2 separate regions of the Homo sapiens genome follow, and region 1 is linked to region 2. Evidence: fine-mapped expression QTL. A gene starts in region 2. The other region holds a variant in brackets. All regions are shown on one strand. Distances are from middle to middle. Region 1 overlaps GNB4 (G protein subunit beta 4). Region 2 holds the start of ZNF639 (zinc finger protein 639).

The links.
Region 1: its variant is fine-mapped to the expression of ZNF639 in blood mononuclear cells (TOPMed, PIP above 0.99). The same link has a PIP of 0.9 or more in lung.

What each region holds. Positions count from the first base shown.
Region 1 is chr3:179,425,194-179,429,586 of GRCh38, reverse strand. It overlaps GNB4 (G protein subunit beta 4), which reads left to right. Exons shown (of 10, transcript NM_021629.4): 2 at 3,345-3,443. The coding sequence starts at 3,387. Among named protein-coding and RNA genes, the nearest start is that of GNB4, 24 kb to the left of the region's middle. The variant G/A (reference allele first, on the strand shown) is at 2,441.
Region 2 is chr3:179,320,433-179,324,825 of GRCh38, reverse strand. ZNF639 (zinc finger protein 639) reads right to left here and starts at 1,795. Exons shown (of 6, transcript NM_001303426.2): 1 at 1,535-1,795. RefSeq lists an enhancer at 836-885 and silencers at 1,456-1,595, 1,626-2,065.

The DNA.
Region 1 (4,393 bases), 100 kb before region 2:
TGAAGTACTGGATGAAGCCTGGTTAAGAAGGGATGAGCCACAAACTCACTATTTTCCACATTGGACCCCTCATCTTTTTTCTTCTGAACCCTATATCCATGACTGTAAAGGACCTGGGATCTTTACCTACTTACAAGCGAATAAATGAGTCTGTTACTGTTTGATGAAACTCCTTGGTCAGAGACAAAAGATTTTATTACTCAACGGTGAGTAGCATGGTGTGATGATGCTTTGTGTTGATTCCCGGTGTTCCCCAGTGCCCACAGGGTGACACAGGTAGGCCCAGATGGATGCTGCACGTGCACTGGATTTCATCACAGCCTAGAGACACTGAGCTTGGGGGTTTTACCCCTTTTACAGTAAATAGAAGCCATTCTGCTCTTCATCTCATGAGGAGACATTGTCTTATTCCTTGAGGTTGCATGTTGCAAAACAACCCTGAGAGATGGCCCAAGTAACAGCCACTAGGGACTTGTGTTCTTGGCATTCCCAGCCAGAATGTGCAGGAAGGGCCCGGGTCTGGGACAGATTGCCTCACCCGTCATCCCATCGGTGCCCCATCCACGGAGTGATGGTGGTGAGGGAACTGCTTTTTCTTTGTTTCCCATTTCTATTCATGGTACCTCCATCCTTAGGGGCACTCAGCCTGGAAATTCTCATTCATTTGGTACAGATCATAGTTTATCCCAAGTAACTCTTATTACAGGTAACTCCTGCTTTAGAAGGTCACTGGTATGTGTGTGTGGCTTTGGGGGAAGGACAGCAGTAGGATGGGTTACAGGTAATTTTTAATAAGCTTAAAAGTTCTGAGACCCAGCCTGGGCTCAGCGACTCATGCCTTTGGTCCTAGTGCTTTGGCAGGGCAATATAGCTAGAACCCCATCTCTACAAATAATAACCATAATAGTAATAATAATAACTGCAAATTTTTAAAAAGTCCCGAGGCCCTTTAGGGTCCCTCGATAGTTCTTTCTAGTGTTTTAGTTAGTAGGAGGGATGTAAACTAGTTGTGCTTACCCAAAATGTTTTGGGACCCTAAAAATAAAGAGGTATCAAAATAATGAGAGTTTCTAGGACTGTGGGGCCAGGGATATCTCAGGAATGGTCAGCAAGGGCAGCTAAGGTTGCGGCTTTAAAGAGCCCGCATGCTGCTTGTCTTCACTTCAGCGGAATGGGATTCCAGACCGGCTGTAATCTGTCCAGTCTGGCCCTCTCTGAGATGCATACTAAATTGTTAAACAATCAAACTTTATCAGGGAATGGTTAAGACTCATAAATAAAGATGGAAAATTTGGATAAACAGAGAAATATGCCACAATATTAAATTGGAAATGGAATATTAGAATGATTTTAGTTCTTCTGGAACTGTTTTATATACCTTAATGCCATTCCAGTCAATCCCAATACATTTATTTTTTAATTGGACAAAATAAATACAAAGTGAATTCTGAAAGAATAAATAGATACTGGTTTTTCTTTTCTTTTTGTCTGAACATAATAAACAGATATTTGTACCATAGTTGATGCGATTGTAGCATAGACATCAAAACCAAATTCTCTCTCATGAGGGGAATCAATCTTTTATAGGAATTTGGACTTAGGACAGTCATTTCGGGCTACAATCTTGACCTAAAAAGTTATAGGCTTGGGTTTTGTACTTAGGGGAGCAGAAAAAGTCATTCTGTAGAAAGAAAAAAACCAAGGAAGATAAGAAGAGAAAAGAGACCAGGACAGGTAGAGAAAGAATACTCCCAGTTTCTAGCCTCTAGTGTCTTTTTGAGGTAGTAATATTCCTGTCTTTTGGTTCTGTGATTCATCCTAAATCCTTAGAATGAATATTCCTTTATTTGTTAAGCTATTTCAGGTTGCTTTATTTACTGGAGACCAAAGTATCTTAAGTGATGGGGATACAACAAAGAATAAAGCAAACAGAGACCCTACCTGAAGGAACTTTACATCTTTTTTTTTTTTTTTTTTTTTTAAAGCCAGAGTCTCACTCTGTCACCCAGGCTGGAGTGCAGTGGTGTGACCTCGGCTCACTGCAGCCTCCTCCTCCCAGATTCAAGCAATTCTTTTGCCTCAGCTTCCCAAATAGCTGGGATTGCAGTCATGTGCCACCACACCCAGCTAATTTTTGTAATTTTGGTAGAGATGAGGTTTCGCCATGTTGCCCAGGCTGGTCTTGAACTCCTGGCCTCAAGCGATGCACCCACCTCAGCCTCCCAAAGTGATGGGATTACAGGCGTGAGCCACCACACCAGACCCTTTACATCTTATCAGAAGGAAAGAGATCACAAGTAAGTAAATACATGCTGATGGTGTTGAGTCTCATAGTGAAAAACAAGACAGGGTAAGAGGAGCATGTTTGGGTGCACATGTGCTATCAGCAAAGGTCCCACTGAGAAGATCACATTTGGGCAGATTTAGTAAGGGAGCAAGG[G/A]ATTATAAAATCAGAGACAGGAGCTATCCAAGCAGAGGCAGGAGCAAATGCAAAGACACTGAGACTGGGGCCTGCTTAGCATGTTCAGGGAACATCAGAGAAGTCTTTGAACAACTGGAACAGAGTGAGTGTGAGAGTGATACATGAGGTCAGAGGGGGGTGTGTGTGTGTAATGATACAGGGTCTGTGGGTCAAGATAGAGTTTAGTGGAGTGGAAAACCATTGGAGGATTTAAAGTGACTTGTATTTTAAATGGATCTCTAGTTGCTCTAATTAGACCAGAGAGTGGTCGAGGGCAGCAGAAAGGAGACCAGGTGAGAGATGGTCATGGTGATGTGGACCCAGACAGTAGAAGTGGAGGAAATCAGAATTAGAACCTGGATAATTTCTTAAGGAATAACTGACATGATTTGCAAATGGATTCGATGGGGAGGCTATGATTAAAACAGGACTGCTCCCACATTTTTAGCTTAAACAATTGTAAGTAAGGATGGTCTTGCCGTTTCCTGAGATGGGGAAGGCTTGGGGGTGGGGTGGGGTTCAGTTTTGAGGTACTGTGTTAGGTGCCAATCCAGACATCCAAGTGGGGAAGTCTCTTGGTGTCCTCTGAACTGTTGTAAAATATTTCTCACCAGACTCCATTCTGGTACTAATTCCCCATAATTCAGCCTTGAATACTACAACTTGGAATTTCTCCTCCATCCTCTGATCATGTTCTTGTATACAACCCTTCAGTAAATAACCTCATTCTATATTTACTAAGCATCTTTAAATTCCTTTAATAATTGACTACCTCCATTGAATTTCAGTAGGTCCAAAAAGAAGTTATATGTCAGTATTGTAAAACCAGATTAAGATGTAAGTAGAGAACTGAATCTTTCTCTTGCTCTCTGTTTTTTAACAGCTGTTTTCACTCATTAGCTCCTGAGGTAAACAAATTGAAAAAATGAGCGAACTGGAACAGTTGAGGCAAGAAGCAGAACAACTGCGGAATCAGATTCAGGTAAAACCTTTTCATTTCAAAATGTTAGCACTTATTTAGTACCAGGAATCTACAAAATTTGCCTATTAGTTTATCAGTCTATATTAAATGATTTCTAAGGCTAGAAATGGTCTTTTTTTCTCTCACATGGCGAAGTAAGAACTGAGGTCTATTTGTGTTTACCATGTCTCGAAAGAACTCTTCAAAATTCATTGCGAACAAGTACCTATGTAGAAGAATGGCCTCTATGAAAGACAGACATAATTCTCTTTTTATTTACATGCCTAGAATCATAGATTTTTGGTACAAAACCATAATGTAGATAGTGTCACAATATAATGTCACACTAGGGAAATATTAATCTATACATTAATTAGGTTGCAGAAAATCATTAGGGTGGGCACAGTGGCTCATGCCTGTAATCCCAGCACTTTGGGAGGCTGAGGCAGGTGGATCACCTGAGGTCAGGAGTTCAAGACCAGCCTGGCCAACATGGTGAAACTCTGTCTCTACTAAAAATAGAAAAATTAGCCAGGCGTGGTGGTGCACACCTGTAATCCCAGCTACTTGGGAGGCTGAGGCAGGAGAATGGCTTGATCCCTGGAGACGGAGGTTGCAACGAGCTGAACTCACGCCACTGCACTCCAGCCTGGGTGACAGAGCGAGACTCTGTCTCAGAAAAACAAAACAAAACTATCAGTGGCAGAATCAAAACATGTCTGACACCTTTTACTCTTGGAATCAACTCAAAACAGTAAGGATAAGAAACAACTACAAACTCCATCTTTAACAAAATTAACAGACACTAGAACTTCAAAGCGTAATGGATGGAGAGGAGTTGCCAAATGCAGTGAAGCAGCAGCACGTGGGGAGGCTCTGAGAGGAGGCGTCTGCGTGGGGAGCACTCTCTAAGAGACAGCACCACGGTCCCTTCTTTGGAACAATGGGAACAGATGCTTCCTTGGACTTCA
Region 2 (4,393 bases):
AAGTAGTCTCTTGTTATTTCAGAATGCATCTCAAGTTCTTTGCAACTTGAAGAATAAAAGTAAGAAAAGGAAACCAAGCGTGGTATTAAAATCAACGTTGCAAGCTGGCCTGGATTCAGGCTGTTAGGTGAGAGGAGGAGGCACACGGATCAGGAAGGGTCTGACTCCTACTTAGGGCCGAACGATAACCAAATGTCTATCGGACTTCCTTTCAGCACAATGGTGATGCCTACTCAAGACCAAAAATGCTAACCATCCTTCATTTTAGCAATCATTTTTATGTGCCTTTTGTGTGCATAACAGCCTTGAAAAAACTTAGCTTTCTACTCAAGGATGTCATAAACATTTGCTCACTAGTCTTCTTAGCAGGAAGATTCTGAATCACAAGCAACCTATCACAGTCCCCCCTCCCTCTGAAATACAAACGACATATGTAACACGTGTCACTGCAGAAAAATCAGAAAAATGTTTAAAAATTTTTTATATCACCTAGAAACCAACATCTTTCCACCTGTCATTTTTTTCAACCAACAAGAAAGTCTATGCACAAAATAGAATACATACAACAGGCAGTCAGCAATCATCAAATAGATAAACGTTTCAAAAGGCCTTTCATGCAATGTATATTCTTCCTAATTGCTGTAAGACGTCTTTACAGTAAATAACTCCATTTTTAACGAGTTTAAAAAGAGTTAAGCTTTCTTTTTCGTTCTCATTAAAATAAGCATATGCTTTAAATTGTAAAAGAATTGAAACAAAAACATGTTGCAGGAGAGCCTGAACTAGAATCCACTACATGTCCAACGTGGAGGCAGTCTTTACTGCAATATCACACGGTCACTAAATACTTGATTCGCTATTTTTCAGTCCGGCATAAATCTTTCTCTTCGAAAAAAACAAAAAAGGCATAAACTGCTTCAAATGATTCGTTTCCCTAGACAGTACTTAAAGACAAAACCAAAAAAGGGGGTTTCTAAGCACCGTCACACGAGTGAGGCGACTCTCAGGCTGGAGGCTTTGGGCGCCAGCATCGACGCCTGCTCTCCGCGGCTACAACTCGTTGCGCGAGCCCGGGGATTCGCCGCCGGAGGTCACGAAGCCGCCGGGCAGGGCCGCAGCGCCAGCGAGGACCCAGGATCGTCCCGAGCCCGGACGCAGCCAGACAAATGCCCGTCGGAGGCGCAGGGCAGAAGTCCCTGGGACTTAGCCGCCTCCACCCCGGCGCCACGCACCAGCTTCGCCCGGGCCCAGAAGCCGGCGCCAAGGAGACTTCCAAGCCCCGACACCAAAGGTTCCGTAAAGACAACGGCAGCAGGGGGCCGAGGGGAGCCCGGCCAAGGCGTCCTGCGCAGGGGGTGGAACTGCCTTCGGGATGGGGGAGGGGAACGCCATCCCGCCATATAACGAAGGCAGAGTTTCCGTATAAAGGGAGCTCCGGTCTCTCCCGCCCTCTCCCGTTAGAAGATGCGCCCGCACGCCCGCGTCCCCTGGAGCAGTCCAGCGCCCGACCCACCCGCTCCTCCCTCACACTCACCAGTCAGTCCCCCGAGGCCCTCCCGGCCGGCCCACGCAGAGGCGGCGGCGGCCGAGAGCGCAGGCGGAGGGGCCGCGCGGTCCTTCCCGCGGACGCACGGCGGCGGGCAGCGCTGCTCCGGCCCTAGCGCTCCCGGACGCTGTGCTGGGCCGACCCCTCTCCCTCCCCGCGCGCCCCACGCCCTGAGCGCCAGGCCCCTGGCCTAGGCTCCGCGGCCGCACTGCCCTGGCCGCCACGCTCCGCGCCTGCGCCGCGCACCTCAGGGGCCCGCCGAGAGGGCGGGGAGGTGACGAGGTGAGGTGGGGGCAGGGAGCGGGCTGCGCGAACGCACCGCACACGCGGCCTGGGAGGGACCACCGGCCCGCAGCCCCGGGGGAGGCCCAGCGGCCCGCGCCCCCTGCCGGAGGCCTTGCGCCGCCGCAGTCTCCTTCTGGGCGGGGAAGAGCCCCTCCCGAGCCCCGAGGGCGATCCCACCCTCTAGGATTACTCCACGCCAGGCGGCCAGCGAATTTATCCCGCCCGCCTCCACCGCCCCTTCAAGCCCTGGGGAACTGGGAGAAACGTGGCGCGCAGCGGCACCTTTCCCACGCTGCTCCTCAAGGGAAAGGACGCGAGTGGTCTTGCCCAGGTTAGGCAAGGCAGATGGCATCTCAGACCCCGAAGTGTGCCAGCCGCCTGTTGGGGACAGAGAGGCCGAGGACCTCGTCACGGTTTTACTGAGGCCACACCAGAGAACCACCTAGGGCTAGGATGCTGCCCTCAGGGCAAGAGGGTGAAACCTGAAGACTGCGAGTCGTTGTTGAGTTTCACCCGATTCCTTGGCTCGAGAAATAGTGGAATGAATGAGGAGTTAAGGGGGACTGGACTCGACGATTTAAGTCCTTTCTCGACTTTGACTTTCTTTGAGCAGCTGTAGAAATGATTAAATTACACGAGCATAAATAAATTTGTGAACATGGTTCCATAAATGATCTCTGTGCAAGTGTGGTGATATGTTTAATTCAGTCCTTTTGACAATGAGTTGAGGTTTTTAGTCACATTTTACAAAATGGAAAAGTAAATGTGTGAGAAGCTAAAGACTGGGTCTTAATTCATTTTGGTAGCCTAAACCCCTGAGGTTCAAACGGTTAAGAGGATGACTGAGAGCCATGTGGATTATCAGGTACCCAAGGTCACTCGGATAGTTAGGGCTGCAATGATGTCTCTTTGTTCACGTCCACTGCTTTTTCTGACAACCACATGCCAATCAACCAATCAATCGCTGGAAAGTAATAATCACAGACTTTACTCTGATCCCTTCACCATCCCCCAGGAGATAAAGCTATATTTGAAAGAGACACTACTTGTTTGTGAGGCTCAGTTTTTATGACCTCCTAAGTTTTATGTGCGTACTCAGCTCAAATAAATGCTCACGAATGCTAGTATGGCCCGAATTAAAGTTCGAAGAAATGTAGAGACATTTTTAAATCCTAGAATAGTTAGTATCTAGCACAGAACCGGGAATCGGTGGAAACCACAAGGGGGTGTCATGCCACCATCTTACCATTTTGCCTTACCACATAGCCTTGTGTCCAACAAAATCTTTATATTTCAAAATGAAGTTTTACTCCAAAACATTTTGTAGTGAAAGTAAACGCACACTCTCCCCAGCATCCCACGTATTGTTTGCACTTAGAGGAGCTTGACTTTGTTTAGATGTTGTTTAACATAGTCACAAATTGCAAGCAATTTCAAGTTCTTGATTAGCTGGAGTGTTTTTCAGTTTCATTTTTGGGTCCCTCTTTTCCTCATCTCCCGCTCCAAGGGAGGGTGATAGCTGGGATAAAACCCTAAAATCTCAAGAGTGCTAAATTGTAGAGTTTGTTAAATACTATTATAAATTTGATTCAGGGCTATTAAAACATCGTTCTTCCAACTTTTTCACACACTTGTAGAATAGCTTAATTTCTCCTTCCTTTCCTTCCTTCCTTTTCTTTTTTTTCTTTTTTCTTTCTCACGGTCTCACTCTGTCGCCCAGGCTCCAGTACAGAGATGGGATATCGGCTCACTGCAATCTCCACCTCCTAAATTCAAGCAATTCTCGTGCCCCACCCTTCAGATTAGCTGAGATTACAGGCGCGAGCTGCCACACCTGGCTAATTTTTGTATATTTAGTGGTGCTGAGATTTCACCATATTGGCCAGGCTGGTCTTGAGCTTCTGGCATCAAGTGATCCGCCCGCCTTGGCCTCCTAAAGTGCTGGGATTACAGGCGCGAGTCACCGCGCCCGGCCACTTAATTTCTTCCTGATTAGAAAATAGTTACGTTTTTAGTACAGAATGGAGACAACAGAAAAGTACAAAGAGCAAAAGTAAATTTACCATAATCTCACAACCCTGAGCTCATCAATGGTAACATTTTGCTTTCTATCTTTCCGTTATTTTTATACCTATACTGACATAAAAATTTGTTTTCAAAATTAGAATATTGGCTGTGTTTTTTTCTAACAGGTTCTTTTTTCCAATTAGTATAGCACGAGCATTCTTTATGTTTTTTGTTTGTTTGTTTGTGTGTTTTTGAGACAGAGTCTTGCTCTTTCGCCCAGGCTGGAGTGCAATGACGTGATCTTGGCTCACTGCAACCTCCGCCTCCCAGATTCAAGCGATTCTCCTGCCTCATCCTCCGAGTAGCTGGGATTACAGGCGCGTGGCACCACACGGGGCTAATTTTTGTATTTTTAGTAGAGACGGGTTTCACCATGTTGGCCAGGCTGGTCTCAAACTCCTGACCTCAGGTGATCCGCCCACCTCGGCCTCCGAAAGTACTGGGATTACAGGCGTAATTGCAGTTTGTTGTTTTTTAATTTTGTTAGTGGTGCAA